Linked DNA regions of Homo sapiens. The protein of the gene in region 1 interacts with the protein of each later gene in a pairwise test. Each region holds a gene or a part of one and is shown in the gene's direction. Other genes may lie near its edges. The genes, in order: PAK1, ZHX1-C8orf76, GRB10, GIT2, ZNF444, PNKD and SYNCRIP.

Region 1 (4,508 bases):
GGGCTGCTTTCTTTTATTACTTTTCTACTTCCAGCCTTCTCCAATATCCCTTTCCCTTTCAGACTGTTAAGTACTAACTGAGGCTGGCAAGAGCATTTTCTAATTTATAGAATCTGCCTTTTGAATCTTTTGGGATGGCAAATGACAATGACAGTATATGCATGGCTTCCACCCTCATCTGCCTGCCTATATCTTTAAGGTCCAGCTTTCCTTATTTCCTCCTGGATTCCCACAAAGCTAAGATTGATGTCTTCCTCACTGGTGGAACCCTTGATTTGTGTATTACTGCACTTACCAAGGGAGGGTTTAAGGAAGAGCACAAAATTTGAAGTTAGACAAAGAGCTACTTGGACACTTATTTAAATCTCTATTTGTTCATTTGAAAGAAATAATACCTAACTTACAGAATTCTTGTGAAGATTAATAATATATGTAAAAGTGAATTGTAAGATACTGAGCTATATAGATGTTAGGTAGAGTAGTTTGTAATTTTATGACTATGATTGTGTGTAGCAGTGGTTTTAATTTCGGCTATGCACTTGAATTACTTGTGAAGATGTAAAGAGTTGCCTTGGCATCTCTATTTTGAAAGGTTTATAGGTGATTCTGATATGCAAAGTTGAGAAGCACTGCCTTATATTAACAATGTTTTGCATAAATGTCTTATGTAAGTATTATATGAAAAGTAATATTTTATTGCCATTTAAAGTTCATTCATTTGCTAAATACATATTATGCATCAGGCATTGTCATAGGTTCTGAATAAACAGATGAATCATAGCCTCTACCCTTGGGTTTATAGTTTCCGGGAGAAACAGACATGTGCATAGACAATTACACTACATTGAGACAAAAAATGACAAAAATATGGAGATAAGTGCAAGTGCCATGTGAACACAGAGGAAGGGCATCTGCTGCACTTGAAATGGGGGTGGCCTGGCAAGCATTCTTAAAGGAGGTGACATCTAAGATGGGTTCTGAAAAATGATCAGGGGTTAACGAAGCACAGTCAGGGAGGGGTGAGAAGAAAGGGGAGATGATGGACCCTCTTGAAAGAGAGAGCAATATGTGAGCAGAAGATTTGAGAGCCTGTTTGGGGAGCCCTGTGTAGTTTAGTATGCTTAGAAGATAGGGTGTAAAGTGGGGAGGCGTGAGAGCAGAGAGGAGGCAGGGCCCAGATGATGAAGGGCCTTTTGTATAATGTACAAAATACTTTTACTGATATTATCTGACTTTATTCTTTGGACAATCCCCTGGGTTAGCTAGGACAGGTGTTGTTTTATATTCATTTGATAGAAGAAAACACAAAGAGGTTAATTGACTTGCTGAGGCTATACAGCACAGCTAAGATCTGAAGCCAGGTTCTTATGATTGTTTAGTTCATCATGCTTTTTCTATTACACCATAGCCGTCTTAGACTTTTGCGGTGTGGTAGGGAATCAGGTAAGCTCTGTGGATATATGCACAACAATTTGGAAGCTGTAATGTGCTAGACTGATGTTGGCTAACTCATTTTACAGATGAGGAAATTTAGGAGCAGAGACATCAAGCTGTCATTTGAAGACTTTTTTTTTTTTTTGAGATGGAGTCTTGCTCTGTCGCCCAGGCTGGAGTGCAGTGATGCGATGTCGGCTCACCGCAAGCTCTGCCTCCCGGGTTCACGCCATTCCCCTGCCTCAGCCTCCCAAGTAGCTGGGACCACAGGTGCGTGCCACCATGCCCGGCTAATTTTTTGTATTTTTAGTAGAGACAGGGTTTCACCGTGTTAGCCAGGATGGTCTCAATCTCCTGACCTTGTGATCTGCCCGCTTCTGCCTCCCAAAGTGCTGGGATTACAGGCGTGAGCCACCTCGCCCGGCCTTGAAGACATTTTTAAAAATTATTACTGTGTAACCACAGCAAGTCACTTAACCGTCCTGAGACTCAGTTTTCCTTAGCTGTCATATAAATGTGTTGAATTTGATGCCAACTTCTTTGCTTGAATATTTCGACAGTGATTCTTAACCTTCTCACCTACTCCCTGCCCTCACCCTTTCTCTGTGATACACTGGGATGTAGTCCATCAGTAACAGTATTTCACTATGGAAATAGTTCCCAATGGGCTACAGGAACAAAATGTAAATTGCCAGTTTTGGGGATGGGTAAAGAGGGACTTGGTATAGTTGGAGGGGCTCTTGGTTCTCCAATTACCTGTTAGAGAATTACTATTAATATTTTATTTATTTATTTTTTTGAGACAGGGTCTTGCTCTGTCATCCAGGTTGGAGTACAGTAGCTCCATCATAGCTCACTGCAGTGCTGCCCTCCCGGGCTCAAGCAATCGTCTCACTTTAGTCTCCGAGTAGCTGGGACCACAGGGGCATGCTACTAAGCCCAGCTAATTTTTGTATTTTTTGTAGAGACAGGGTTTTGCCGTGTTGCCCAGGCTGGACTCAAGTGAACTGCCCGCCTCAGCCTCCCAACGTGCTGGAATTACAGGCATGAGCCACTTTGCCCGGCCAAGAATTACTATTTTATAACATTCCCTCCCACTTATTTTCTCATATGGAATTATCTCACCAGTCCAGAGTCTGAGATTTTTTTGGTATCCAGGATAGATTTTGCTTAATTTAATAAATTACATATGTAATTTGTAAAGTAACTTAAAAAAAAATAAAGAACCAGGTGAGCAAAATGAGAAAGCCCATTGTGATAGACTTGAAAAGTCCAAGTTTCCTGGACTTTCTAGAGATTATATATAGGATTATATATATAATTTTTGTGCTTTACTGTTTTCAAAACCCTTTTATATAGAGTCTCATTTAACTTAATTCTGTTCTTTAGCCATCATATTTTTATAAATGAACAGAAGTTAAGTGGCATGATTATGTAGCTGGGAAGTTACAAACTGGAATCTTTAATTCATATTTTCTGTCTCCAAATCTGGTCACCTGTTCCTGATCATTTGGGTGCTGCCCTGACCAGTGGCACTTTTTAAAAAATTGTAGGTTCCTAGGAGAATGGTAAAATATATTTATAGTTCCCTCTAACTCTTTCAAAAAATCGTTTTTTTACTATCCATTGCCACTTGCCGGATAATTGACTTAGTTGACTATGTGGTAAAGGTTCCAGGACAGTTAGGAATGGCTGCTGAGTATATTCTTCACACACACACAGACACACACACAGACACACACACACACACACACACACTCTTTCATGTATGTACCAATCCAATACAGCTGGTCCCTGACTTACAGGGGTTCAACTTAATGATTTTTCGACTTTATGATGGTGTAAAAGCAATATGCATTCAGTAGAAACCATACTTGGAATACCCATCCAATCACTTTCAGTGCAGTATTGAATAAATTACATGAGATATTCATCACTTTATTAAAAAATAGACTCTGTGTTAGATGATTTTGCATAACTGTAGGTGAACGTAAGTGTTCTGAGTATGTTTAAGGTTGGGTAGGCTGAGCTACGATGTTTGGTATGTTAGGTGTATTAAATGCATTTTTGACTTAAAGTATTTCAGTGTAAGTTGGGTTTATCAGGTCGTAACCTAATCATAAGTCAAGGAGCATCTGTACAGCTCTATAGTGCTTCTATTTATTCCTTAATTAGACTACACATATTTATTGATTTCTTCCTGTGTGCCAAGCATTGTACTTAGTACTAAGGATACACTCATAAATAATACAGACATGGTCCTTGTCCTTGCTCTTACAAAGATTACATTCCAGAGGGTAATACAGAGAAAAGTAAGTAGATATACAAGTGGACAGTTGCAGATTTTGATAAGTCCTACAAAAGAGATAAAGGACTAATGTAGAGAATTTTGGAGTGATAAGGAAAAGACCTCATTGAGGAAATGATGCTTTTAAACTGAGATGTGCATGATAAATAGATTTTAGTCATGCAGAACACTGAGGGGGAAAAAGCATGTCAGGCAGAGGGAACATTTTAAATGCACAAAGGCCCTGAGAGTAGGTAAAAGTTTAGAGATGTGCTGCTCAATATGGTAGCTACTTAGCCAGTGTGGCTGTTGAGCACACTGACTGATTCACATAGAGATGCACTGTAAGTGTAAATAAAATACATACCAGAGTTTGAAGACAATACTGAAAAAATAATGTAAAATAACTCATTAACTTTTTATATTGGTTATATGTTGAATTGTTAATATTTTGAATATATTGGGTTAAATGTATTTTAAAATTAATTTCACCTCTTTACAAACTTTAAAATATGGCTACTAGAAAATTTGAGATTACATATGTGGCTTTTCTTTAAGGCTAACCGTATCTTTCAGTTGGATAATGCTGGTTTACCTCAACATAGAGGAACTAAAAAAAATTATGGCTGTTGTATAGGAAGCAAGAGTAAATGGTATGAGATGAAGTTGGAGTGGGAGGAAGAGACCTTTCAAAACGCTACCCTGTGTAATATCCTAGTTAATCCGAAGGGACTGAGAGGGGATTATCAAGTCTGATTTTATAGATGGAGACAGTAATTGCCAAAGT
Region 2 (4,508 bases), on another chromosome or scaffold:
ACCTTTAATGATAATTGTAAGTTCTTTTTTTTTCAATAATTGGGGACAAAGTTTTACAGTTATTAGCGAAATTAATAGCATAGGAGAGGTGGTTCATTTTGAAGATTTTTCTCCCTTTTGTATTATTATATTTTATATTAAGATGGAAAGGTTATATTATGATGTATTATATTTCTTATGCTAATTAAGCATAAAATGTGATATTTGAGACTTAGTTTGCTGTAAATTATAACTTAATACTTAAATGAAAATGCTTTTAAAATTATTAAAATGATCACAAATGTAGCTGAGGAAATAACCCTTTTATTTGTGTTGCAGCATTGTGGATTTGGGCCCAAAGACTTTACTTAAATAAACAGTGTTGAAAGTTCAGCACCTAGTTTTTAATCTAATATCATAGTCAGTGCAATTATTCAGAGAGATTTTTGGAATTATCTATTGTACTGTTTATGGTGCTAGCCAGTAATACACATTTTTTAAATCATTATAAATATTTATTTATGTTGTGATAAGCACATTTACTGTTAAGACTAAATTTTTTGAACTTAAAATCCTTTTAAATAATCCTACGTAGTTTCAAAAGTAAGTTATAGTTCTGTTTTTAAAACTGATACTATCTTTAGAATAAGAGCCAATGTTTCTATACTATTATTGATAAATTTTATTGTATCCTTGTTGCTCTGATATATTTGTAGTCATCAATAACCAGATTTGCATGACTAAAGTTGCTGACTTAGATTATTAATCAGAATATACATTTGAGTTTACATTTTGGAGATCTGCATTTTATACAGGATATTCTTAAAGTAAATATTAATATGTAACTTTGTATGTAGTTGCCAGGTTTTGATCTTAAAAGATACTTAATCTTGGCATTTTATACAATCAGTTTCCAACTTAAGAGGTAAGACTGTATACCTTTGGTCTAAACAAATGTGATGATATACTTTGTAAAATAAGTATATATGAGCAGTTTAAGAATTATGTTTATTCAAGGGAGCCAGTTGAATACATTTTTTTTTTTTTTTTTTTGAGACGGGGTCTCATTCTGTGGCCCAGGCTGGAGTGCAGTGGCATGATCATGGCTCACTGCACCCTCAAACTCCTGTGCTCAAGCGATCCTTTCTCCTCAGCCTCTTGAGTAGCTAGGACTACAGTCATGTGTCACCCACGCCCGGCTAATTTTTAATTTTTTTTTTTGTAGAGATAGGGTCTTACTGTGTTGCCCTAGCTGGTCTCAAACTCCTGGCCTCAAGCAATCCTTCTGCCTTGGCCTCCCAACATGCTGGGATTACAGGTGTGAGCCACTGCACTCAGCCAAATAAATCATTTTTAATGCAAGATTTTAATTTTCAGTTCTTAGTTTTAGATTTTAAAAAATATTATCAGAATTTATCTTAACAAAATTAAAATATCGAAGTCATAGCCATATCATATATTATTGTAAATAAAATAACTCTTTCATTAAATTTTGGTGATTTCCTATTTCTCAAGATTTCTAACTTCCTTTTTCCCCTTCTTAAAAGTCTTTTCCTTTTTTGTTTTTTAGTGAGAAATGAAAGAAGATAGGAGGTTCTGATATTTCTAAGCACTAAACTAATAATTATATTTTTCTTCTAAGTTTATTCTCTTTTACCATCAATATTCTTAAAAAGAAGTTTGTTAAAATTTTGCTAGACATGGGCTATACTTGGGAGTGGGGAAGATCATGAGAACAATTTCTCCTCGTTACTATGATAAAATTACTTATATCAGATGTTTGCTAGTTCTATGAAATACCCCTTAAATATGTCATACAGTAATGATTTATTTTGAAGCTAAGGTCAGAAAAAGTTTGTGGGGGGAGAGGTTAAATTTGATTGATTAGTATCTGCCTTTTGAAGCCAACTTGTTCCAGCATGATTTAATATGCTCAGAGGTATGAAATGGCAAATAAATTTTGTTGGTTGGTTGTTACCCAGATTCTTAAAGTATTTTATCACTTGTCAACAGTTAGCAAATTTTAAAGAAAGATTTCTTTGCTAACATTCATTGTGTTCTAAGTACCAAGGAATATTCCAGAAACTTTACACGTGTTACCTATTCCAATCCTCACAACAACCCTATTAAGTAAATAGTATCCTATTAATATTACCAGTCCCATTTATAGATGATGGGGCTGAGGCACAGATAGGCTAAGCCATTTTTCTAAAGTCACACAGCTAGTAAGTGGCATGCTGTATTTGAACCCAGTCTGTTCCAAATTCCAAGCTCTCAGTCTTTTTTTGTAATCCATCTACTACCAGAACAGCTTGTTCTGTTTTATTATATAATGTACATAGCTGAGATGAGCTCTTTAATTTTTGGAATTCACTCATACTAAATTAAGAAAAATACTTTGAATTAGATAGAAATGTTCTAAAGTAATCCCAGTATCAGGAACTTAAATAACATCAGGCAACTAGGATTTTCATTCAAAAGCACTGATGAGCTCATTTTTGCTCCTCTGGTATCCTGGTGCCTTTACATGTCTTGGCAGCTCTTCTCAAGAGACTCATTCGGTAAAATATCTTGCAATTACTGTGTGATTTTAAGAATGGATTGAAGTAGGTTACCAGATTCCTAAAGTATTAATAATTCATTTTGGAAAATAACCTTCCCTCTTTGGCAGCTGTTTCCTATCTTCTCTTCTAGTCCACATCCTGTAGATTGATGGCTAACGAGTGGCGGAACAAGGAGATACCAGGAAATGAAACTGTAGAGTCCCAGGCTACAGAGATAATAAGATGCTCCACTGGGCCTACCAGGAAAATGCTCTTTTGCTTTTCATGAAAATAGTGTACTTATTCAGCCTAAGTTTTAACCTAACCTAGAGGTATTTTACTAAAGGACTGGTGTATTTACATTATTTCTTGATGTGAGAAGTTTCTTCATAAACTTGTATGTAATAGTAGCAGGAATAAAAAAATAAGGTTAATTGGGAAAATACTCTTCCTTAATATTTATTCATTATAGTTTACAGAGAATAGTGCTTAAAGAATACAACAAAAGGCCGGTTAGGGATCATGCCTGTAATCCCAGCACTTTGGGAGGCCAAGGCGGGCAGATCACTTGAGCTCAGGAGATAGAGACCATCCTGGCCAACATGGTGAAACCCTGTCTCTACTAAAAATACAAAAATTAGTTGGGTGTGGTGGCGTGTGCCTGTAATCCCAGCTACTCGGGAGGCTGAGGCAGGAGAATCGCTTGAACCAGGGAGTCGGAGATTGCAGTGATTCGATATTGCGCCACTGCACTCCAGCTGGGCGACACAGTGAGACTCCATCTCAAAAAAAAAAGAATACAACCAAAATGCTTTAACCCTTCAAAAGTGTTATTTATGACTGTTCTAGTAAGAAAAGCAATTGTAGCTTTATTAAACTTTTCTGATGGGTTTAACTGATCTAGATTATATACAACAACATATTTGGACAGTAATTGAATTTTCAGAGAATTATTTTCTGTTTATTTGATTGCATGATGTTAATACTTCACAGTGCACTGATTGTAAAGCCATTTGGTAGTAGCTTTCAGGCAAAAACGACATGGCTAAACACCAGTCATTTTGTTAGATAACCCCATGTTTGTAGATCAAGTACTACTAGTTTGTTTAACTTGTTTTGGCTTGTGTTGTCAGCATTAATAATCCTCTCCATTCTGATTAACATAATAAATTAGGATACAAATATCACTAGGTTTATGTACTAACACATAAACATATACAACTACTCCCATTTCTTAGTTTAACTAAATTGTCTTCATAACCTTTGTATACTTATTTATTTATTTATTTATTTAGAGTCAGAGTTTCGCTCTTGTTGCCCAGACTGGGGTGCAATGGCGCAATCTCGGCTCACTGCAACCTCTGCCTCCCCGGTTCAAGCGATTCTCCTGCCTCAGCTTCCCGAGTAGCTGGGATTACAGGCATGCGCCACCACGCCCAGCTAATTTTGTATTTTTAGTAGAGACGGGGTTTCTCCTTGTTGGTCAGACTGGTCTCAAACTCCCAACCTCAGGTGATCCGCCGGCCTTGGCCTCCCGAAGTGCTGGGATTACAGGTGTGAGCCACCGCGCCCGGCCGGTATACTCATTTTAAAGAACTCCCAATTTCTGCATCTCAATTTTCACACTAGAGACGGCATATATTCACGTTTTGAAATTTTATTCAAAATGGTCTAATAGTTATTTAGTTGTTCTATATGATATAAATAGAGTTTTTTTAATGTGTAGTTTTTGTGTTTACTACCAATATTAGGATTGGTATTTAAATGGTTCTTTTAAAGTTTTGATGAGGGAATAAACTTTTTTTTTCAAAATTACATTTATTTATTAAAAGCTAAGGCATTAAATTGTAAAAATTTCCTGACTAAGGCTAAATTATATCTAGAATAATAAAATATGACTTTTTTGTAGGAGAAGACAGACTGCTGCTTTGGACCTGTTGGTAATGATGGCCTGAGCTAAACATCTAACTAGAAGGGATACCCTTC
Region 3 (4,508 bases), on another chromosome or scaffold:
TTGTCTTTGTAAAGCATGCCAGGTGATTCTTACAAGTATAAAGTCTGAGAACTGATGTGGTGTTCTGGGCCTTGTAACTACTGGGGCTTCTGGTGATTCAGTTAGAAAGTTAGCAGCTCCTGTCTGAAGGGTCAAGGGCAGAATGAGGGGAGGCCTTGAGGCAGTATGAGTCCTGTGGACCCTAGGAGGTCTGGGAGCACATGTCAAAAGAGGCCTTTATGTGGGCCTTTTGCTTCTGTCAGATTAAATAACTTGGCACATCTGGTAGTGGGCATGGCCATGCATCACGTGCAGAACTGGTGTGATGGACCATATTTTCTCATATTTCACAGAATTCACTGGCTGGGCATGATCCACAAAGTCCTAACCCATCCCAAACCCTGGAACCCTTTCCATGACGGTTTATTCTGATTTGTTCAGGAGACACATTTCTTCTGTTTTCATGTGGAATGGGCTTTGTTCCTCTCACGGCCGGCAGAGGTTAAATTAAAGGGGCCAGAAAATGCTGAGCTGTGACTAGGATTGGGGGGCCAGTAGGCATTTATTGGCCCCGTTTGCTTCTTTCTTCCCTTTTTTTCTCTGCCTCCTCGGTCAGGGGGTCCAGGACTATCTCTCCAGGGGCATTTCTGGTCTGTGGAGACTTGCCTGAAGGCAGCTGGAAGAGTCTGGGCTGAACTCTAGATGCCTCAGGCTCAAATCTCATATTAGTGAGGGAAGAAAATTCTAAATGTGTAAATGGTACCTGTAAGTCACCTACAAATAATTTTTTTCCTTTCCTGTGCAGTGTCTGGGAGCCAGCTTCTGAGTGTTGTCAAGGTAGTCCTGGTGGCTTGAGACTGGTGATGTGCCGTTGCCAACAATGGCTGTGTAATTCTGAGCAGTTGTTCAGCACTCAAGTGGGATGAGAATGGCAAGGAGTGCTCTGGGTGGCTTTTGACAAGGGACCCCGCCTGTCATTCACTCAACAGGTGTTTGAGGAGCCAGTCTGTCTCCGTCATCTGTTCCTGCCTTACTTAGATGGAAAATAATGAAATCTGTGTAGGAAGGGAGGGTGAGTAGAGGGATGGCCTGTGTTGACTGAACAATAAAATAGTGATGTTAATATATTTTGCTTATTTATTTTCTTAAAGGGAGCTGGCACGTTTCAGTTCTGATACAAGTTAAATATTAACAATGTCTGAAAATACCACAACTTAAACTTTAATATGCATGGGAATCTCCTGGGGCTGATAATAAAATGCAGCTTCTAATTTAGTTGGTCTTGGTTGGGACCTGAGGTTTTGGGTTTCTGACCAGCTCCCAGGTGTTATGCTTGCAGTTGGTCAGTGGCCCACACTTTGTGCAGTAAGGTCTTAATGCATTTCCCCCTGTGTTCACTTTAGTGTCTTTTTCTCTAGAAATTCTCTGAAGAGGACACTTTACCTGGTAAGAACTATTATTAATAATGCTATTACTTAATCTAAGAATTTTTGTACCAAGAATTTTCTAGTGATTAGCCCTACATTGTTGTAAATGACATTCTTAAATGTGTCCATACTTTATTCCAGGGGCAAATATTTGTACAGTGTCCTGCTTTGACATTTGTTTGGATTCCTGTGGATTTTATTTAGTGGTTTCTCTTTTGTTTATGATGATAGAACACTTTTAGAAAGGTTTGAAACCTTTTGAATCTTGAGCGGATTTGGAAGCCCCACCTGCCTTCTTTTAAGAATGTAGGAATTGTATCTGCTTTGAGCTTGTGCATGCTAACACCCCACTTCTTCCAAGGTCCTTGCTCAGTGCCTTCATGTCTCAGCATCACAGCCTGGAACCTGGAAGGCCTCCAAGCCATAGAAAGAAGCAATAAAGATGTCCCAGTGGGGCTTCTGGCTGGGGCCCTTGCCTGTTTCTGTCAGCGTTAGCCCGACCCTACCCTTGGAGGTAGGGTTGGGTTGTCCCATTATTTCCCTGTCAGGGTAGGTGGTATTAAAGCAGCTTTTGTCTTGCTTGCACTGTGAGTCTGTTCTGTGTATAAGGCTCCACTGTGTGGATCACCTCTACTTAATGCCACCTTTTGAAAAATTCTACCACCAAAGTTCTTCCTTGGATAGCAAAGACATTTTTGAATGTTTGTATTTGTGCCTGCCCTAGTTGATCAGTAAATGCATTGATGGGCTCCATGGGACTTTGGACCCATTCCTTTGTCATCTTTCATTAACAGTCTTCCTAGGCTGGTGGTGATGTTGGGCAACTTAATGCTTCCTGAAGGTTTTAGATACTACAGGAGCTAATAATTTATTGCCAAATAAGTGAGGAAACTTTGGATTAGATAAAGTTGGTTTCTTTATGGCACAACATTTCAGAAAATTTTGTGTGCCACAATGTATTATGACACTTTAAGAGGAAGATGGCTAGACTATGGTGGTTCCAAATTTTGGGGGGTCGGGGTGGAGTTAGAACCCCTCTTGTGCTGATTATTTCATTAGGCTAGTTTTTTCTTTCTTTAGTTCCGGGATACATGTGTAGAACGTGCAGGTTTGCTACATAGGTATACGTGTACCATGGTGGTTTGCTACATCTATCAACCTGTCATCTAGATTTTAAGCCCCCCAAGCATTAACTATTTGTCCTGATGTTTTCCCTCCCCTCAGTCCCTCTCCCCTCCCTGACAGGCCCTGGTGTGTGTTATTCCCCTCCCTGTGTCCATGTGCTCTCATTGTTTAGCTCCCACTTATGAGTGAGAACATGCAGTGTTTGGTTTTCTGTTCCTGTGTTAGTTTGTTGAGGATGATGGCTTCCAGCTTCATCCATGTCCCTGCAAAGGACATGATCTCATTCCTTTTTGTGGCTGCATAGTATTCCACGGTGTATATGTACCACATTTTCTTTATCCAGTCTATCATTAATGGGCATTTGGGTTGGTTCCATGTCTTTGCTTTTGTAAGTAGTGCTGCAATAAACATAGGTGTGCATGTATCTTTATGGGCTAGTTTTTTCATACAGTCCTCTCTTAAAAAAAAAAGCTGTATTGAGGTATAATTCACATACCATACAATTTACTCATTTAAATTTGAAGTATATAATTCAATTATAATTAGTATATTTACAGATATGTGCAATGGTGTGTGTGTGTGTGTGTGTGTGTGTGTGTATACAGATTGCTGTGGTCTGAATGTATCACCCAAAATTCATGTGTTGAAACCTAATGGCCAACGTGATGTTATTAAGAGGTGGGGCCTTTAGGAGGTGTTTAAGTCATAAGAGTGGACATAGATGGGATTAGGGCCCTTTTAAAAGGGCCTGAGGGGGAATGGGTTTGCTCTCTTCTGCTCTTCCACCATATGAGGATACAGCATTTGTTCCCCTCTGGAGGGTGTGGCAACAAGGCACCATCTTGGAAGCAGAGAGAGGCCCTCACCAGACACTGAACCCCAGTGCCTTGATCTTGGACTTCCTCTCTTCCAGAACCATGAGAAGTAAATTTCTATTATTTATAAATTACCTAACCTGTGGATTTTGTTATAGCAGCACAGACAGAAATTGATACTGAGAGTGGGTGTTGTTATAGCAAATACTTAAAAGAAAAGTGGAATTGGGTAATGGGTAGAGGATGGAACAGTTTGGAAGTGTTTGCTAGAAAAAGCCTAAATTTCTGTGAACAGAGCATTAAGAATGATTCTGGTGAGGGCCCAGAAGAAGAGGAGAGCCGTAGAGATAACCAGTGTCTTCTTAGAAACTTCTAAGTGGCTGTGATCAGAATGCTGGTAGTATTATAGACAGTAAAGCCCGTTCTGCTGTGGTCGTATATGGAAATGAATATCTTATTGGAAACTGGAGGAAAGACAGTCCTTGCTACAAAGGCGCAAAGAACTTGGCTGAATTGTGCCCATACTCTAGGGCTTTGGGGAAGGCAGAATTTAAGAGTGACAACCTAGGATATTTGGTGGAAGAAATCCGTGAGCATAGTATTCAGTATGCTGCATGACTTCTCTTAATTGCTTACAGTAAAATGTGAGAGAAATGAATTGAAAATGGAATTTATAATCCAAAGGGAAGCAGAGGCTGGGCACTATGGCTCATGCCTGTAATCCCAGCACTTTGAGAGGCCAAGGTGAGAGGATTGCTTAAGCTCAGGAGTTCAAGACCAGCCTGGGCAATATAATGAGACCTTATCTCTACTAAAAGTAAAAAAAAAAAAAAATTAGCGGAGTGTGGTGGTGTGCACTTAGCCCCAGCTACTCAAGGGGACTGAAGTGGGAAGATCACTTGAGTCTGGGAGGTCAAGGCTACAGTGAGCCATGATTCTGCTGCTGCGCTCTAGCCTGCGTGACAGAATGAGACCCTGTTTCCAAAAAAGAAAAGGAAGCAGAATTTAAGGATATGGAAAATTTTTAGCTTGCCCAGGTTGTAAAAACATGTTTGGGAGAAAACACTAAGGGTGTGGCCAAGTGACCTTTTGATAAGGAGATTAGTATGGATAGAAGGAAGCCAGATGCTATTCATCAAGATAATGGAAGAATGATCCTGAA
Region 4 (4,508 bases), on another chromosome or scaffold:
TAATTTTTTTGTATTTTTAGTAGAGACGAGGTTTTACTGTGTTAACCAGGATGGTCCCGATTTCCTGACCTCGTGATCCGCCCACCTCGGCCTCCCAAAGTGCTGGGATTACAGGCGTAAGCCACCACGCCCGGCCATTTTTTGTATCTTTAGTAGAGACGGGGTTTCACCACGTTGGCCAGGCTGGTCTCGAACTCCTAACCTCATGATCCGCCTGTTTCAGCTTCCCAAAGTGCCGGGACTACAGGCCTGAGCCACTGCGCCCAGCCATGGTGGATTAACTTTTGATGTGCTACTGGATTTGGTTTGCTAATATTTTGTTAAGAGTTTTTTAAAAAATCTGTGTTCATCATGGATTTTGGCCTGAAGTTTTCCTTTTTTGTTGTGTCTTTGCCAGATTTTGGTATCAGGCTGATGTTGGCTTCACAGAATGAGTTAAGGAGGAGTCTCTCCTCTTTGATTGTTTGGAATAATTTTAGTAGGATGTTCTTCTTTGTATGTCTGGTAGAATTCAGCTGTGAATCTCTTGAACTGGGGAGACGAAGGTTGCAGTGAGCTGAGATCATGCCACGGCACTCCAGCCTAAACGACAGAGTCTCACTCTGTTGCCCAGGCTGGAGTGTCGTGGCACAATCATGGCTGACTGCACCCTCAACCTCCCTAGTCTCAAATGATTCTCCCACCTCAGCCTCTCAAGTGGCTGAGATCTCAGGCATGTGCCACCAAGCCTGGCTAGTGTGTGTGTGTGTGTGTTTTGTTTTTGTTTTTTTTAGATAGAGTCTCTGTTACCCAGGCTGGAGTGCAGTGGCACGATCTCGGCTCACTGCAACTTCCACCTCCTGGGTTTAAGCGATTCACCCGCCTCAGCCTCCTGAGTAGCTTGGATTACAGGTGCCCACCACCATGCCCGGCTAATTTTTTTTGTATTTTTAGTAGAGACAGGGTTTCACCATGTTGGCCAGGCTGGTCTTGAACTCCTGACCTCAAGTGATCTGCCTGCCTCGGCCTCCCAAAGTACTGGGATTACAGGCATGAGCCACCGCGCCTGGCCAGTTTTTGACTTTTTGGAGAGATGGGGTTTCACCATGTTGTCCATACTGGTCTCAAATTCTTGGGCTTAAGCAGTCTGCCTGCCTTGGCCTCCCAAAGTGCTGGGATTACAGGCGTGAGCCACCACATCTGGCCTTTTTTCCCCCCCCTTTTTTAATCCCCAGCAGAATCTGGCTGAAGAATTCAGAATTTGAAATTTTGCATAGAAATGCATATACTAGCTACTTCCATTGATTAATAAGACTTGGTATGTGTTGGGTTTTTTGTTTTTTGTTTTTTTTTCCTTGCCAGAGTTTTAAAAAATTAGGCACAGTGGCACATCCCTGTAATACTAGCTACTTGGGAGGCTGAGGTGGAAGGGTTGCTTGAGCCAAGGAGTTCAGTCCTGCCTGGGCAACATAACGAGACCCTGTGTTTAAAAAACAAAAAAACTATTTAAAAAATTAAACTTAGATGTTAGAGTAGATTTCTTCATTCCTGTGATAAGGGTTACTGCATCTTGGACAATTCTAGGTTAGATTTGAAGGAAGGCAGCTCATCTTCTGACTGTATAAGAGCTTTTCTGCAGTAGTACAGAATTCGGTATATCACGGGCCTTTTCCTACCCTGAAAGACTTTATTAAAGCATATTATACAGGCCAAGAATAATGTGGTAGAGAGGGTATTGTATAAGGCAGGATCCTGTAGCTTACACAGTGTAGAATTTGAAGTCCTAAAGCCCTAATTACAGTAACAACTAATAATAATAACTGTTATTATAGCATTTGTATTCTTTGAGCACTTTATTATATCACTAAATCCTTATAATAACCCTGTGAATAGGGCCAGGCACGGTAGCTCATGCCTGTAATCCCAACACTTTGGGAGGCCGAGGTGGGAGGATCACTTCAGCTCGTAAGTTCGAGATCAGCCTGGGCAACATAGTGAGACCTCATCTGTATTGAAAAATAAAAAGTTAGCAGGGCATGGTGGCCGGCGCCTGTAGTCCCAGCTGTTTGGGAGGCTGAGGTGGAAGGATTGCTTGAGCCCAGGATACTGAGGCTGCAGTGAGCCATGATCACTCCACTGCACTCCAGCCTGGATGACAGAGCAAGCGAGACCCTTTCTAAAAAGAAAAATGCCACCTTTTAAAATTTTTTTTATTTTTTATTTTTTTTGAGACAGGGTCTCGCTCTGTCACCAAGGCTGGAGTGCAGTGGCATGATCACAGCTCACTGCAGCCTCCACTGCCCAGGCTCAGGTGATCTTCCCACCTCAGCCTCCTTAGTAGCTGGGACTACAGGTGCGCATGCCACCACACCCAACTAATTTTTGTATTTTTTGTAGAGCCAGAGTCTTGCTATGTGGCCCAGGCTGGTCTCAAACCCCTGGGCTCAAGTGATCCTCCAACCTCAGCCCCCCAAAGTGCTGGGATTACAGGCATGAGCCACTGCATCTGGCCATTGTTGACATTTTTGAGATGAGGAAAGTGAGGTTCAGATTGCTTAAAGCCCTTTCTCCAGGCCACACAGCTTGAAGTGGGTATAGTTTGAAATTCAGGTCTGTCGTATGTCAGAGCCACGCATAGTCACCTCTTCACACAGTCCTGCCTCTCACTCAGGTTCTGGTTGTGCCACTTCTTAGATAAGTCATGCATTTGGGCAAGTCAGCCTTCACAGCCCTAGTTTCCTTATCAGTAAAGTGGCCTCACTCCACCTTACAGCCCAGGGACAGTTGTGACTGGCAAAGGAGAGACTGGTCCATGCACTTTACCGAGACAAATAAAGATTATGCGTTACTGATGTAACATATATTAAAATGGTCTATCAGCTGCCCTAGGACATCATTCTTTACACCTCTAACCACGATTCCTTTTTTGTTTCTGCGTTTTTCAGCAACTCCATTCGAGCGTGAGAACAGGGAATCTTGAAACCTGTTTGAGACTGTTATCTTTAGGAGCACAAGCCAACTTCTTTCATCCTGTAAGAAAACATGAATTGCTTCAGATATTGAAACTAAGTGAGTTGTGTTCATGTAGCCTTTATTTAATGTGCTCTTTTGCCTACTTTTTATTAATGATTCTTAGGAAAAAGGAAACACCCCACTCCATGTTGCCTCCAAAGCAGGGCAGATTTTACAGGCTGAATTATTGGCAGTATATGGAGCAGACCCAGGCACACAGGATTCTAGTGGGAAAACTCCCGTTGATTATGCAAGGTAAGAGACCTAGATTCTCGCTACTTCTCTCTGGGATTTTTTTGTTGGGTGTGATTCCTTGTTAAGTAGCTAAGTTGTATATGTTGATATTGAACCCCTTTAAAGATGTACGTTATTTTATTTTACAGATGAAGACATTTCAAATGCATATAAGCTCAGCCTGGCAAAGTTGAGGAAGGCTAGAATCATGAACCAGTGTGCTAAGCTTCCAGTCTTTTACTTGATCCTTTATAACACAGTGATGTTTGAGCTGTAGTCAGATTCCAAATCAAGTATCAAGAATTACAGAATGTACTCTTCTGTTTTTTAATACTCTTAGTTATTTCTTGAACTTAAAAGCAAATATATACATAGATATGTGATTAAACAAGTATAGTAAAAAGTTAATTGTAAGGTTTGGGTAGTAGACATCTAAGTGCTCACTCTAGGCCAGGCATGGTGGCTCACACCTGTAATCCCAGCACTTTGAGGGTCCAAGGCGGGTGGGTTACTTGAGGCCAGAAGTTCGAGATCAGCCTGGCCAGCATGCTGAAACCCTGTCTCTACTAAAAATACAAAAAAAAAAATTGGCTGGGCATGGTGGCAGGCACCTGTAATCCCGCTACCCGGGAGGCTGAGGCAGGAGAATCACTTAAACCTGGGAGGCAGAGGTTGCTGTGAGCCGAGACCATGCCACTGCACTCCAATCTGGGTAACAGGGCAAGACTCTGTCTCAAAAAAAAAAAAAAAAAAAAGTGCTCACTGTAAAATTATTTAAATTTTTCTTTATTAATAAAGTCCTTGAAAAATAAATCTATAGGTTAGTCTTGAATATCATTTAAATGGCCAAAGATCAGTCATCTTTCCTTCTTTTTCCAAAGTACTTTTATTAACTGTGAAGCACAATACTCTGTTCCACAGAGGATAAAATGGGTGAATAACAAAACTCTGCCTTCCCAGAATTTACTCTCTTGGAAAAGATGATTCATAAATGCCTGAAAGAGTTCAAGGAGGCAAGACCATATGGGATTCATTGCCAAAATAGATAATTGGTCTTAAAAAGCATATATAGGGTTTCTTCATTGTGGTCCAAATCATTTAAGAAATTTCTTCAGCTGGTCTTGAAGAATGGGTTGGATTTGAATGTGTGAAGGGAGAGCTGAAGCATTCCAGGTAAGAGGAAAGGCAGGAGTCAAGATCAGGAGGCAGGGAGGGACAAAGTGTGTTCAGCACAGCAGGAGACCTGACTGGAAAGAACAGAGTGGGTCTGGGAATAACAGCAG
Region 5 (4,508 bases), on another chromosome or scaffold:
GGGAGAGGGGAAGGTGCCAGGGAAGCCACCAGGAAGCCCAGGGAGGAGCACCACTGAACCCCTGAAAACCAGTGTGACTCGCGGTGGGGAGGCTGCGGTACAGGCTGCGGTACAGCGTGGAGGGACAGTCCACGTGCGGCACCCTCCATCCCCACACCAGCTGCAAGTCAGGAGGGCCCCAAGACCCTGGCATACTTGCGAGTTCTCTAGGACTCACAGCCGTGTTCACGGTCACGGCTTATCAGAGAAGGACGTGCTGGAAGCAGCTGGGAAGAAGGCCACGAAGGCTCCAGGGAGCGCAGTTACCAGCTGTCCTCTCCCCGCACCCCGCCCGCACGCAGGGGGTCTTGCCGGCCAGGAATTCTCCTCAGACCGTGGTGTCCTGGGTTCTTACTGGGGACTCCTCCCCGTTCTGTGTGGCTGACCTCAGCCTCCCGCCCCCTGAAAGTCAAGGATACCCCCTGGTCCAAACTCTACCCCAAATTCATCTTGCTTTTGGGCTGGCCTGAGTCCCCCGGGGCAGGCAGACCCTCCTTATCATGCGTGAGGCTCCAAGGGCTCAGAGATGACTTCCCAGGGGCAGAGGGCAAAGCCAGGCCTCTCTGGGCAGGTTTGGTTTCTTGACCACACAGCAGGCAAGGGCCGACTCACGTTCTGGGTGAAGTCTTGGTGCACAGCCACACCCACCCACTCATGTCACCTGGGGCTGACACTTGCCACCGTGATGACCACAGAGGGCCCGAGGAGCTGGAAGTGTTGACTGCCTGGCCCCGTCAGGGAAGTTGCCAGCCTGGCTTAGAGTCCTGTCGGGGGATGTGTTATGTGAGCTGCACATGCCATCTTAAGTGTTCTAGTCAGCACGTTAAAAAAAGGCAAATTTACTTCATGGACCCCAATGTGTTCAAAATACCATCCTTTCAGTAGTGGCACTCTCCCATGGCTGGTGGCTGCTGTGTGGGGCCTGGGTGATGAGCGGTGGGCAGCCACGCAGAGACCTCTGAGAAGAGTGGTCCAGGCCACGAGAGCAGCCAGTGCAAAGGCCCTGAGCCACCTCGAGCGGCACAGGGGCCCTGAGTGAGGGGGTGTTTGCGGCCAGGCCTGAGTCCCCAGTGGCAGGAGGGTGAAGAGTCAGAGCAGTCGCGTGTTCCTCATAAGTGCGTACCGAGTGCCTGCTGGGTGCTGAGATGTAGCAGCAGAGAGGGGGCATCTCGGTGAGGCAAAGCGAGCAAAGCCTTCAGTCCATGGCAGCCGGGCGGCCTTCCTTCCTTCCAGAGGGAGCAGCTCCCGTCAAGGCTGCCAGTGGCCTCATCCGTCTCCCTTCTCATGCGGCCCGACCAGCCCCCAGACACTCCCCCCTCTTATTGTCTGGGATACAGCTCGCCCCTCCTCTGCTCCTGCCTCCTGGCACCTCTGTGCTGGCTCTGGCTTCTCTATCCTCGCCCTCCTTCCGGGTCATTGTTCCCAAAAGTGGGTTGTAACAAATCACAAACGCAGCGGCTTACAAATCACAAACGCAGCGGCTTAGAAATCACACAAGTCTGTTACAGTTCTGGAGGTCAGAAGTCCAAAATGGTTTGGTCTCATGGCCCAAAATCGAGGTGTCTGCAGGGCCACGTCCCTTCTCAAGTCTCCAAAATCAAGGTGTCATCTGCAGAGCCACGTCCCTTCTCAAGGCTCTAGGAGAGAATCCGTTTCCGGCCTTTTCCAGCTCCTAGAGGCTGCCCGCATTCCTCGGCTCATGGCCCTTCCTCCGTCCTCAGAGTGCTGCACTCCGACCTCTGCTTCCATCCCCCATCACTCCTCCGACCTTGACCTCTGCTTCCATCCCCATCACTCCTCCGACCTTGACCTCTGCTTCCATCCCCCATCACTCCTCTGACCTTGACCTCTGCTTCCATCCCCATCACTCCTCCGACCTTGACCTCTGCTTTCATCCCCATCACTCCTCCGACCTTGACCTCTGCTTCCATCCCCCATCACTCCTCTGACCTTGACCTCTGCTTCCATCCCCCATCACTCCTCCGACCTTGACCTCTGCTTTCATCCCCATCACTCCTCCGACCTTGACCTCTGCTTCCATCCCCCATCACTCCTCTGACCTTGACCTCTGCTTCCATCCCCCATCACTCCTCTGACCTTGACCTCTGCTTCCATCCCCCATCACTCCTCTGACCTTGACCTCTGCTTCCATCCCCCATCACTCCTCTGACCTTGACCCACTTAGGTCCTGTGGTCACTTATTTATTTATTTATTTATTTTACTTTAAGTTCTGGGATACATGTGCTGAACGTGCAGGTTTGTTACATGTGCCATGAAGGTTTGCTGCACATACCAACCTGTCATCTAGGTTTTAAGCCCCACATGCCTTAGGTGTTTGTCCTAATGCTCTCCCTCCCCTTCCCCCACCCCCCGACAGGCCCTGGTGTGTGATGTTCTCCTCCCTGTGTCCATGTGTTCTCATTGTTCAACTCCCACTTCTGAGTGAGAACACATGGTGTTTGGTTTTCTGTTCCTGTGTTAGTTTGCCAAGGATGATGGCGTCCAGTTCATCCATGTCCCTGCAAAGGACATGAACTCATTCTTTTTCATTGGTGCATAGTATTCCATGGTGTACTGTGGTCACGTCTTAGGTCACCTGTGATGACATTCGGCCCGTCAGGATAGTTCAGGAGAGTTTCCCCATGTCAGTGCTTAACTCCCTCCCATCCACAGAGTCCTTGTTGCCCTGAGACAGCAGATGACAGGTTCTGGGGATCAGACCGTGTACATCTTTGGGGCCATTATTCTGTCTGCCACAGAGGCGAGGTGAATGCAAGGTGAAGTGGGGGTGGAACAGAACCAACGTGGAATCTGTGAGCCTCGGGGTTTCGCCCTTTCCAGTTTCCATGACTCCTCAGAACAGGACCTGGCACATGGGTGCTGTCTAGGTAGATTTCAGCCACTGTTACCACTCTGAGCTCATGCCATCTGTTTTGTTGGCATTAAAATGTTCTTTTAGGAAAAGATGGTAAAAGTAGGTGGTGGTTATTGTTGCTTTTAATGTATATATCTTGCAAAATAAAAAAAAATCTTCCATTCGGGGATGCAGTGAGAGTTCTGTTGGTTCAGTGAATCTAAAAGTCGGGAAATCACCAGGCTCCAGGCCGTCGGGACTCTCCTGCGTTCTCTGCTTGCTCCGAGGCGAACCTCTCACTGTGGCTCTGGGATGTCTTTAGCATCTCTCTTGTATCTGTTACTCTCTCTTTTTAATAAGGGCAGATCTCAGGTTCAGAGCCTTCTCCTATCAGTGTCCACACAGACGGGAATAACACTGCCGTGAGTGATGGAATTTCCCATGACCTCTCTCTCTGGCACATGATACTGGCTTTCCATTTCCAGCAATGATACAACATGGTCTTAAGTCAGTGTTATTTTAGTTTTAGGTAAAAGTAAAGAAGAGTAATAAGAGCCTGGGCGATAGCCATTGTAGCTGACGGTGGTGTATAGACAGCTGACATCTGGGGGCGCTGCTGTGGATTGGGGTTTCTTGGCATCTGGTCTGTGGGAGCTGACGGTGACGCATAGACAGCTGACATCTGGGGGCGCTGCTGTGGATTGGGGTTTCTTGGCATCTGGTCTGTGGGAGCTGACGGTGGCGCATAGACAGCTGACATCTGGGGGCGCTGCTGTGGATTGGGGTTTCTTGGCATCTGGTCTGTGGGAGCTGACGGTGGCGTATAGACAGCTGACATCTGGGGGCGCTGCTGTGGATTGGGGTTTCTTGGCATCTGGTCTGTGGGAGCTGACGGTGGCACATAGACAGCTGACATCTGGGGGCGCTGCTGTGGATTGGGGTTTCTTGGCATCTGGTCTGTGGGAGCTGACGGTGGCGCATAGACAGCTGACATCTGGGGGCGCTGCTGTGGATTGGGGTTTCTTGGCATCTGGTCTGTGGGAGCTGACGGTGACGCATAGACAGCTGACATCTGGGGGCGCTGCTGTGGATTGGGGTTTCTTGGCATCTGGTCTGTGGGAGCTGACGGTGGCGCATAGACAGCTGACATCTGGAGGCGCTGCTGTGGATTGGGGTTTCTTGGCATCTGGTCTGTGGGAGCTGACGGTGGCGCATAGACAGCTGACATCTGGGGGCGCTGCTGTGGATTGGGGTTTCTTGGCATCTGGTCTGTGGGAGCTGACGGTGGCGCATAGACAGCTGACATCTGGGGGCGCTGCTGTGGATTGGGGTTTCTTGGCATCTGGTCTGTGGGAGCTGACGGTGGCGTATAGACAGCTGACATCTGGGGGCGCTGCTGTGGATTGGGGTTTCTTGGCATCTGGTCTGTGGGAGCTGACGGTGGCGTATAGACAGCTGACATCTGGGGGCGCTGCTGTGGATTGGGGTTTCTTGGCATCTGGTCTGTGGGAGCTGACGGTGGTGTATAGACAGCTGACATCTGGGGGCGCTGCTGTGCATTGGGGTTTCTTGGCATCTGGTCTGTGGGAGCTGACGGTGGTGTATAGACAGCTG
Region 6 (4,508 bases), on another chromosome or scaffold:
CATACACGGTCAATCCTTGTAGAGACTTAGGGTCAGCCAGGCGTGGTGGCTCATGTCTGTAATCCCAGCACTTTGGGAGGCCAAGGCGGGTTGATCATGAGGTCAAGAGATTGAGACCATCTTGGCCAACATGGTGAAACCCTGTCTCTACTAAAAGTACAAAAATTAGCCAGGCGTGGTGGTGGGTGCCTGTAATCCCAGCTACTCGGGAGGCTGAGGCAAGAGAATCACTTGAACCCGGGAGGCAGAGGTTGCAGTGAGCCAAGATCGTGCCACTGCACTCCAGCACGGTGACAGAGTGAGACTCCATCTCAAAAAAAAAAAAAAAGTTTGGAAAAAATAGCCATTAAAAGTACTAAAATATGAAGCTTTTTTTCTTCTACAATCTCTATTTTGACCTGTGATGTTTTTAATTTGCTATTTAATGTCATTCTAAGTAAGAAGCATTTAAATTATTAGCAGGAATTTTACCATTTGCTTAATATTGTGCAATGCCTGTTTTAAATACAAATATAAGGACATTTAACTCCTGTAGAATCACAGAAACGACATAATTAATATTTCTTAGCTTATACATGGATGTGTATTTAGTTCTTACCAGGAGAGGGTCTCCTCTGTCACTCAGACTGGAGTGCAGTGGTGCAAACATGGCTCACTGCAGCCTTGACCTCCTGGGTTCAAGTGATCCTCCCACCTCAGCCTCCCAAGTAGCTGGGACCACAAGTGCATGCCACCATGCCTGCCTAATTTTTGCATTTTTAGTAGAGACAGGGTCTCGCCATGTTGCCCAGTCTGGTCTCAAAATCCTGGGCTCAAGCACTTCTTCCATCACCACCTCCGAAAGTGCTGGGATTACAGGAGTGAGTCACCACACCTGGCCTTCAATTCTTTTTTTTTTTTTTTTTTTTTTTTTCAGACAGAGTTTCACTCTTGTTGCCCAGGCTGGAGTGCAATGGTGTGATCTTCTTGGCTCACCGCAACCTCCGCCTCCCAGGTTCAAGTGATTCTCCTGCCTCAGCCTCCCAAGTAGCTGGGATTACAGGCGCCCACCACCACACCCTGTTAATTTTTGTATTTTTAGCAGAGATGGGGTTTTACCATGTTGGCCAGGCTGGTCTCCAATTCCTGACCTCAAGTGATCTACCAGCCTCTGCCTTCCAAAGAGCTGGGATTACAGGTGTGTGCCACTGCACCCAGCCTTCAATTCTTTTCTTTTTTTTTATTGAGATGGAGTCTCACTCTGTCGCCCAGGCTGGAGTGCAGTGGTGAGATCTCGGCTTACTACAACCTCAGCCTCCCAAGTAGCTAGGATTACAGGCGCCTGCCACCACGCCCAGCTAATTTTTGTAGTTTTAGTAGAGATGGGGTTTCACTATCTTGGCCAGGCTGGTCTTGAACTCCTGACCATGTGATCCACCTGCCTTGGCCTCCCAAAGTTCTGAGATTACAGGCATGAGCCACCGCGCCCGGCCTTCAATTCTTAATACGTGCACATTCTGCCAGCACTGTTGGCTTGCTAGTTAATAAGGAAGGATGGAAAGGAAAAGGATGGATTGGTTACCCTATCTTCCCTTTCCTTTCTATATCGCTATTTGCAGCATAAATAGGTGGATAACACAAAAGCAAGAAAGGATGCAGCAGAGTTCCTTGGTCATTCGTGTTTCTTAGAACACCTCTGTCTTTGTGCACTTGAAGCACGTTCTAGTTTGAACTGAAAGCTTGGCCTCTTGGGTCAGTCATAGGTGTGCACTCGCCTTGTACTTGCTTTGAGTCTTGTTGAACTCCCATGCGTTGTGTGTCCCCCAGATTTGTGTGCTCATGGGCATTGCAGACTCTGTATAGGTATGATAAGCGAGGAACGGAGCACACTCACTGTGTGTGTCTCTTGCTCCCTGCATGTCCCACTGTCCTATCAGGCTCCACTTGCAAGACACAAGGTCAAAGATAAAATCATTAAGAATTTCAGGGTCGGGCACGGTGGCTCACCCCTGTAATCCCAGCACTTTGGGAGGCCAAGGTGGGCAAATCACGAGGTCAAGAGATCGAGACCATCCTGGCCCACATGGTGAAACCCCATCTCTATTAAAAATACAAAAATTAGCTGGGTGTGGTGGTGCACGCCTCTAGTCCCAGCTACTCAGGAGGCTGAGGCAGGAGAATCGCCTGAACCTGGGAGGCAGAGGTTGCAGTGAGCTGAGATTGCACCACTGCACCCCTGCCTGACGACAGAGTGAGACTCCCTCTCAAAAACAAACAAACAAACAAAAATTTCAGGCTTGGCCAGGCACAGTGGCTCACACCTGTAATCCCAGCACTTTGAAAGGCCGAGGCAGGCGGATCACCTAAGGTCAGGAGTTTGAGACCAGCCTGGCCAACGTGGCAAAACCCTGTCTCTACTAAAAATACAAAAAATTGCCGGGCATGGTGGTGTGAGCCTGTAATCCCAGCTACTCGGGAGGCTGAGGCAGGAGAATCACTTGAACCTGGGAGGTGGAGGTTGCAGTGAGCCGAGATTGCACCACTGCACTCCAGTCTGGGCAACAGAGCGAGACTCTGTCTCAAAAAAAAAAAAAAAAGAATTTCAGGTGGGACACGGTGGCTCACACCTGTAATCCTAACACTTTGGGAGGCCAAGGCAGGAGGATTTGTTGAGCCCAGGAGTTCGAGACCAGCCTAGACAACAAACTGAGACCCCATCTCTACAAAAAAGATAATTGGGATTACAGGTGCCCATCACCACACCCGGCTAATTTTTGTATTTTTAGTAGAGACGGGGTTTCACCATGTTAGTCAGGCTGGTCTTGAACTCCTGACCTCAGATGATCCACCTGCCTCGGCCTCCCAAAGTGCTGGGATTACAGGCGTGAGACACCACACCCAGCCTCAGATGATTTTTTTTTTTTTTTTTTTGAGACAGGGTCTTGTTTTGTCACCCAGGCTGGAGTACAGTGGTGCAATCATGGCTTACTGCAGCTTCACCCTCCCGGGCTCAAGCAATCCTCCTGCCTCAGCTACCTGAGTAGCTGGGACCACAGGCGTGTGCCACCACGCCCAGCTATTCTTTTTTTTGTGTGTGTAGAGACCCTATAGGGCACAATGTTGCCCAGGCTGGTCTCGAACTCCTGGGCTCAAGTGATCCTCTCTCCTTCCCTCCCAAGGTGCTGGGATTACAGGTGTGAGCCACTGTACCCAACCTTCTTCAGATGATTAGGATGCATGCTAAAGTCTGACCACCACTGTTCTTTCTGAAATATTTTTTCTACCTCATTTCAGCCTCCTAATTCCTACTCCTTCTTCCCTGCAAATGTCACTTCATCAGAGGTGCTAGACCCTGGGCTAGATTAAACCCCTCACTCTCCAAGTCTCTCTTTTTTTTTAGACAGAGTCTCACTCTTTGGCCTGGGCTGCAGTGCAGTGGTGCGATGCCCAATTCTCCTGCCTCAGCCTCCTGAGTAGCTGGGACTACAAGCGTGTGCCACCACACCCGACTAAGTTTTGTATTTTTAGTAGAGACAGGGTTTCGCCATGTTAGTCAGGCTGGTCTCGAACTCCTGACCTCAGGTGATCCGCCCACCTCGGCCTCCCAAAGTTCTGGGATTACAGGTGTGAGCCACTGCGCCTGGCCTCTCCAATTTTCTTCTGTGAGTTCCTCAGTTCATGTCTCCCTGATAGATTTTGAGTTCTAGGTGTGTCCGTCTCATTCTCCATCTTGTCCTGAGTGCTAAGCAGGGCAAACAGTAGGCACATAATAAGTGAGAGTGGAATTGCATTGGCTCACAGGGTCACCAAAGGAATGGAGATGTGGGGCCTGCAGGCATCACGAAGGAGTCTAGGGGAGCTAGGGAGAAAAGGCTAATCATAGGCCACCCACTCGCCCTCTAGGTACAGCCTGTACACCCGCACCTGGCTCGGGTACCTCTTCTACCGACAGCAGCTGCGCAGGGCTCGGAATCGCTACCCTAAAGGCCACTCGAAAACCCAGCCCCGCCTCTTCAATGGTGAGCTCTGACTGCCCCGGCCAGCATCCCCCATTCTGTGCCCCCACCCTCCCCGCCTGCTCCCCTTCACATACCCCAGCCCCTGGGCTCCCTGCCTGTTACCCCGCCCACAGCCCATCTCTGTCCCCAGGAGTGAAGGTGCTTCCCATCCCTGTCCTCTCGGACAACTACAGCTACCTCATCATCGACACCCAGGCCCAGCTGGCTGTGGCTGTGGACCCTTCAGACCCTCGGGCTGTGCAGGTGAGGGGAGGGCAGGGAGCAGGGGGTGCCTGGAGTCACCTTGGGGACTGGCAGTTTCGCCTTGCTAGAGAGGGCTGACCCTTGTCCGTCTGCCCGTGGGATGTGTCCCATATGCTCCATGTTCACACGTGCACATGCGCACACATAGCCTGGGGAAGGGGGGTACAGGGCATGGCTGGGCAGAAGGGGAGAGCAGGAGTGGGGGATGCAGAGCCAGAGGGCTGGGGGTGTTGGCCCAGGACTCTGGGTCTAGTGAGTTTCCAGGCT
Region 7 (4,508 bases), on another chromosome or scaffold:
GTAACTGTGGTAAGAGCTCTCATACTTCCTGGCCATACCTGAGCCATCTCTTTTTCTTAAATAATTCACAAAAGACATTGTGATACATTTCTAGTTGATGAAACAAAAGATTTTATGGTGAGTGGCAATGTTTGATTTAAAAATACCAGATGTTAGGTAAGGACCTGGTAATCTTTCCAACTTTTTTAAAAAGGAAATTTTTCTTTTTTCTTTTCTTTTTTTTTTGAGACCAAGTTTCTCTCTCTTGCCCAGGCTGAAGTGGCATGATTTCGGCTCACTGCAACCTCCACCCCTCAGGTTCAAGTGATTCTCCTGCCTCAGCCTCCCGAGTAGCTAGGATTATAGGCGCCTGCCACCACGCTCAGGCTAATTTTTATATTTTTAGTAGAGATGGGGTTTCGCCATGTTGGCCAGGCTGGTCTCGAACTCCTGACCTCCGGTGATCCACTCGCTTCGGCCTCCCAAAGTCCTGGGATTTTAGACGTGAGCCACCACGCCTGGCTAGAAAGAAATTTTAATATTTTAAATTATAGTTTATGTAAGTCCTTTAAACTAGTTTTATTAAGTTCTGTGACAGAAGTGGTTTCTGCATTTTATAGTTGAAGAGTTGGGGGCTAATTTAAACCCATAGAATGTATCAAGCAACACGACTGGGGAGAACTTTTGTACAAGATAGCTCACTATGCCATGTTTGTTAAATTTGCTTTATCTGGCTTACGTATCCTGTGGGTAATTCCAGACAAACTTAAAATCTTCAGACTCATTTTTTTTTCCCTCCCTCCTGAGTTTTACCCCTTCCTTTACCATGAGGTTTATCACTTTAAGCAAGCCTTAAAGAGAAAAATAAAACTCATAAGTCTTCCTTTTCTTTTTTTTTTTTTTTTTTTTTTTGGGAGATAGAATCTCACTCTGTCACCTAGACAGCAGGAGTGCCATGGTGCGATCTTGGCTCACTGCAACCTCCGCCTCCCAGGTTCAAGCGATTCTCCTGCCTCAGCCTCTCCGGTAGCTGGGATTACAGGCATTTATCACCACACCTGGCTAAATTTTGTATTTTTAGTAGAGACAGGGTTTCACCATGTTGGCCAGGCTGGTCATGAACTCTTGACCTCAGAAGATATGCCTGCCTCAGCCCCGCAAAGTGCTGGGATTGCAGACGTGTGCCACTGCACCCGGCCAAGTCTTCCTTTTCTATGTTGTGTGAATATTCCCCACTGGTTTGCATAATTGAGTATGATGGAAGTTAAACAGTACAAAATTATGTTACTTGAAAGAATATAAGCCTTTACAAAGAGAATTTGAGAATTTAGATATTTTCAAATCATGTCTGATTTTTCTCTTCATAAAAGAGTGCTTTGTGTTTTAGAGGGAATTCAGATTTACTGGTAACCTTTGAGTTGTCAAAATTTTAGTTTCAGCAGTTCAATTTGAGGGGAGGGGCATTTTAGAGCTCTAGAAAGAGGTACCTTAGAAATCCTTTAGTTTGTTTTTATGATTTGTTTTTTGAGACAAAGTCTCTGTCACCCACGCTGGAGTGTGTGGGCATGATCTTGGCTCACTGTAATCTCTGCCTCCTGGGCTCAGGCAATTCTCCTGCCTCAGCCACCCGAGTAGCTGGGATAATAGGCGCGTACCACCACACCTGACTAATTTTTGTATATTTGGTAGAGATGGGGTTATGTTGGCCAGGCCGGTCTTGAACTCCAGACCTCAAGTAATCTGCCCGCCTTGGCCTCCCAAAGTGCTGGGATGACAGGCATGAGCCACTGTGCCTGGCAGGTTGGTCTTGAACTCATGGTCTCAAGCAGTCCTCCTACCTCGGCTTCCCAAAGTGCAAGGATTACTGGCATGAGCCACCTTGCCTGTCCCAAAATCCTTTAATCTCCTATAAAAGAGTAGAATATTTTTGCCAAGTAGCAATAAAGTAGCAGTAAGTGAAAATGCAGAATGATCCAGTAAGCAATGAGGTATCATAACTACAGAAAGCTAATACAGTGGGCTCTCTCTACTGTGGGTCCTGCATTCACAGTTTCAGCTAGCTGAGGATTGAAGATACTCCCAAAAAACCCAATAAAAAAAAAAAACAACACACCAGTGTATGAGAGAATGTTCGTAGGTTATGTGCAAACACTATGCTATTTAAGAGAGTTGAGCATTCATGGATTTTGGTATGGGTTCCTGGAATCAGTCCCCCGTATGTGCTGAGGGACCACTGCAGAATTTAGCTAGTGGTGTCATCCATTTTTTAACATTATGAAAAAGAATCATTAAACTGACATCGTAGGTTACCTAATTCTTGCCGTCAAAATGTACCAATTATGGTAGGTGACCACTATAACTTATTTATAGATGTTTTCCAGAAACTTTACAGTAAAGATACATCATTAGAGGAAGATGGTTTATAATCCATTAGTAACAGTGATTTCGAGTGCCAGTAGACACTAGGAAATGTTTCCATTTGTACAATTGCCTTGTTTAATAAATACGTTAAATTATAAAATTGCATTGCTGTAGGTTGCTTAGAATATAGTCTTATTAATATAGTTTTTAAATATAATGGAGAAACTTCTATAGATAAGCATTCTTTTTGATTGGCGTAGGAATTAACCCTTGTCCTAAAACTTTCTACATTTCTTTCTGGGTTTCTCTGTTGTGATTTGAATCCTTTTCTGGGGGCATAATTATTTTGTACTATCTAATTAATAGGAGACTTTGCATTTTGTTGTCTTTTAAAAGATACTTTTGGCAGGGTGTGGTTGCTCACACCTGTAGTCCCAGCACTTTGGTAGGCTGAGGTGCAAGGATTGATTGAAACCAGCCTGGGAAACATAGACCCCATCTGTACCAAAAAGTAACAGATTAGCCAGGCAGCGTGCACCTGTGGTCCCAGGAGGTCAAGGCTGCAATGACCTGTGATCATGCCACTGCACTCCAGCCTGGGCAACAGAGACCCTGTCTCAAAAAACCAAAAAGGGGGAAAAAAAAAATTTCCAATGGTAGGTATTGGTATACAGCCAGTAGGATATATTGGTCATACCATCATTTGCTTTTTTTGACTTTTTAGTAAGTTTTTTTGAAACGGAGTCTCCCTCTGTTGCCCAGGCTGGGGTGCAGTGGTGTGATCTCAACTCACTGCAACCTCTGCCTTCTGGGTTCAAGTGATTCTTCTGTTTCAGCCCCCTGAGTAGCTGGGATTACAGGTGCACACCACCATGCCCTACTGATTTTTGTATTTTTAGTAGAGATGGGGTTTCACCCTGTTGGCCAGGCTGGTCTCAAACTCCTGACCCCAGTCTCGGCCTCGGCTTCCCAAAGTGCTGGGAGTACAGGTGTGAGCCACCACACCCAGCCTACTTTTAAGTAAATTGTTTATTTTATTTATTTATTTATTTATTTATTTATTTGTTTTTGAGATGGAGTCTCACTCTGTTGCCCAGGCTGGAGTGCAGTGGTGCAATCTCGGCTCACTGCAAGCTCTGCCTCCCGGGTTCACGCCATTCTCCTGCCTCAGCCTCCTGAGTAGCTGGTACTACAGGCACCCACCACCACACCCAGCTAATTTTTTTTGTATTTTTTTAGTAGAGACAGGGTTTCACCGTGTTAGCCAGGATGGTCTCGATCTCTTGACCTTGTGATTCACCCGCCTTGGCTTCCCAAAGTGCTGGGATTACAGGTGTGAGCCACCGCGCCCGGCCTTAAGTAAACGGTTTTAATTATTATTACTGTTTTCGGAGACAGGTTGTCACTCTGTTGCCCTTGCTGGAGTGCAGTGTCATGATCAATGCTCACTAACCTTGAACTCCCGGGCTTACGTGATCCTCCTGCCTCAGCTTCCTCAGCAGCTAGGACTATGAGGGCACCACCTTGCTAGGCTAATTTTTAAACTTGTAGAGGTGGTGTCTCACTATGTTGTCCAGGCTAGTCTTGAACTCTTGGCCTCAAGCAGTCTTACTGCCTTGGCTTCCCAAATTGCTGGGATTACAGGCATGAGCCACTGCGCCTGGCCATTGTTTACTTTTTTTTTAAAAGGATGCTTTACTGTGGGTAGGATCTGGTAGATTTGCTTTAGCACAACAAAGAACTAGATTTTAGAGAAAGTGAAGTAATTGAAACATTCTAGAGAAAATACAAATCTCAAGTTTTTTTGGATGTTTTTTGCCACTTTGTATTCATTTGCGGACATGAATACCCCTTTCCTAAGTATGTTCCTCAAGGGCGCATACTTTGGAAGCTATCTCTACTGTGTTACATTTTGAGATTCTACTTGTTACAGTTCTATCCAAAGTGAGTTTTTAATTGAAGTGTCATTCTAGTTATATATAACTAAATGTTGGGAAAGTGCCTCATGCCTCCTTTGCATTATTTATAGATCAGACAAGATTGAAGCACCTCTGTTTCTCTTTTGAGTGTCTGGAGGAATACCTTAGGTTGAAATAGTTTTAGGTATTTGGCATTGTCTTTTAATACTGATACAGCAATGAATAGTTTCTCTAGGTTAAATAGTACTG

What was found.
Region 2: the proteins of PAK1 (region 1) and ZHX1-C8orf76 interact in binary tests that used the Homo sapiens proteins (3 or more experiments, as listed by UniProt).
Region 3: the proteins of PAK1 (region 1) and GRB10 interact in binary tests that used the Homo sapiens proteins (3 or more experiments, as listed by UniProt).
Region 4: the proteins of PAK1 (region 1) and GIT2 interact in binary tests that used the Homo sapiens proteins (3 or more experiments, as listed by UniProt).
Region 5: the proteins of PAK1 (region 1) and ZNF444 interact in binary tests that used the Homo sapiens proteins (3 or more experiments, as listed by UniProt).
Region 6: the proteins of PAK1 (region 1) and PNKD interact in binary tests that used the Homo sapiens proteins (3 or more experiments, as listed by UniProt).
Region 7: the proteins of PAK1 (region 1) and SYNCRIP interact in binary tests that used the Homo sapiens proteins (3 or more experiments, as listed by UniProt).

Annotation. Positions count from the first base shown.
Region 1 is NC_000011.10:77,463,674-77,468,181, reverse strand, and holds part of PAK1 (serine/threonine-protein kinase PAK 1), read left to right. Parts: intron 1-4,508. UniProt on the Homo sapiens protein: Protein kinase involved in intracellular signaling pathways downstream of integrins and receptor-type kinases that plays an important role in cytoskeleton dynamics, in cell adhesion, migration, proliferation, apoptosis, mitosis, and in vesicle-mediated transport processes.
Region 2 is NC_000008.11:123,267,310-123,271,817, reverse strand, and holds part of ZHX1-C8orf76 (zinc fingers and homeoboxes protein 1), read left to right. Parts: intron 1-4,431; 5' UTR 4,432-4,508.
Region 3 is NC_000007.14:50,776,052-50,780,559, reverse strand, and holds part of GRB10 (growth factor receptor-bound protein 10), read left to right. Parts: intron 1-4,508.
Region 4 is NC_000012.12:109,982,111-109,986,618, reverse strand, and holds part of GIT2 (ARF GTPase-activating protein GIT2), read left to right. Parts: intron 1-2,924; coding exon 2,925-3,011; intron 3,012-3,115; coding exon 3,116-3,246; intron 3,247-4,092; exon of another isoform or gene 4,093-4,508. UniProt on the Homo sapiens protein: GTPase-activating protein for ADP ribosylation factor family members, including ARF1.
Region 5 is NC_000019.10:56,147,238-56,151,745, forward strand, and holds part of ZNF444 (zinc finger protein 444), read left to right. Parts: intron 1-4,508. UniProt on the Homo sapiens protein: Transcriptional regulator. Binds to the 5'-flanking critical region of the SCARF1 promoter.
Region 6 is NC_000002.12:218,335,901-218,340,408, forward strand, and holds part of PNKD (probable thioesterase PNKD isoform 1 precursor), read left to right. Parts: intron 1-3,882; coding exon 3,883-3,998; intron 3,999-4,128; coding exon 4,129-4,241; intron 4,242-4,508. UniProt on the Homo sapiens protein: Probable thioesterase that may play a role in cellular detoxification processes; it likely acts on a yet-unknown alpha-hydroxythioester substrate.
Region 7 is NC_000006.12:85,632,158-85,636,665, reverse strand, and holds part of SYNCRIP (heterogeneous nuclear ribonucleoprotein Q), read left to right. Parts: intron 1-4,508. UniProt on the Homo sapiens protein: Heterogenous nuclear ribonucleoprotein (hnRNP) implicated in mRNA processing mechanisms. Component of the CRD-mediated complex that promotes MYC mRNA stability.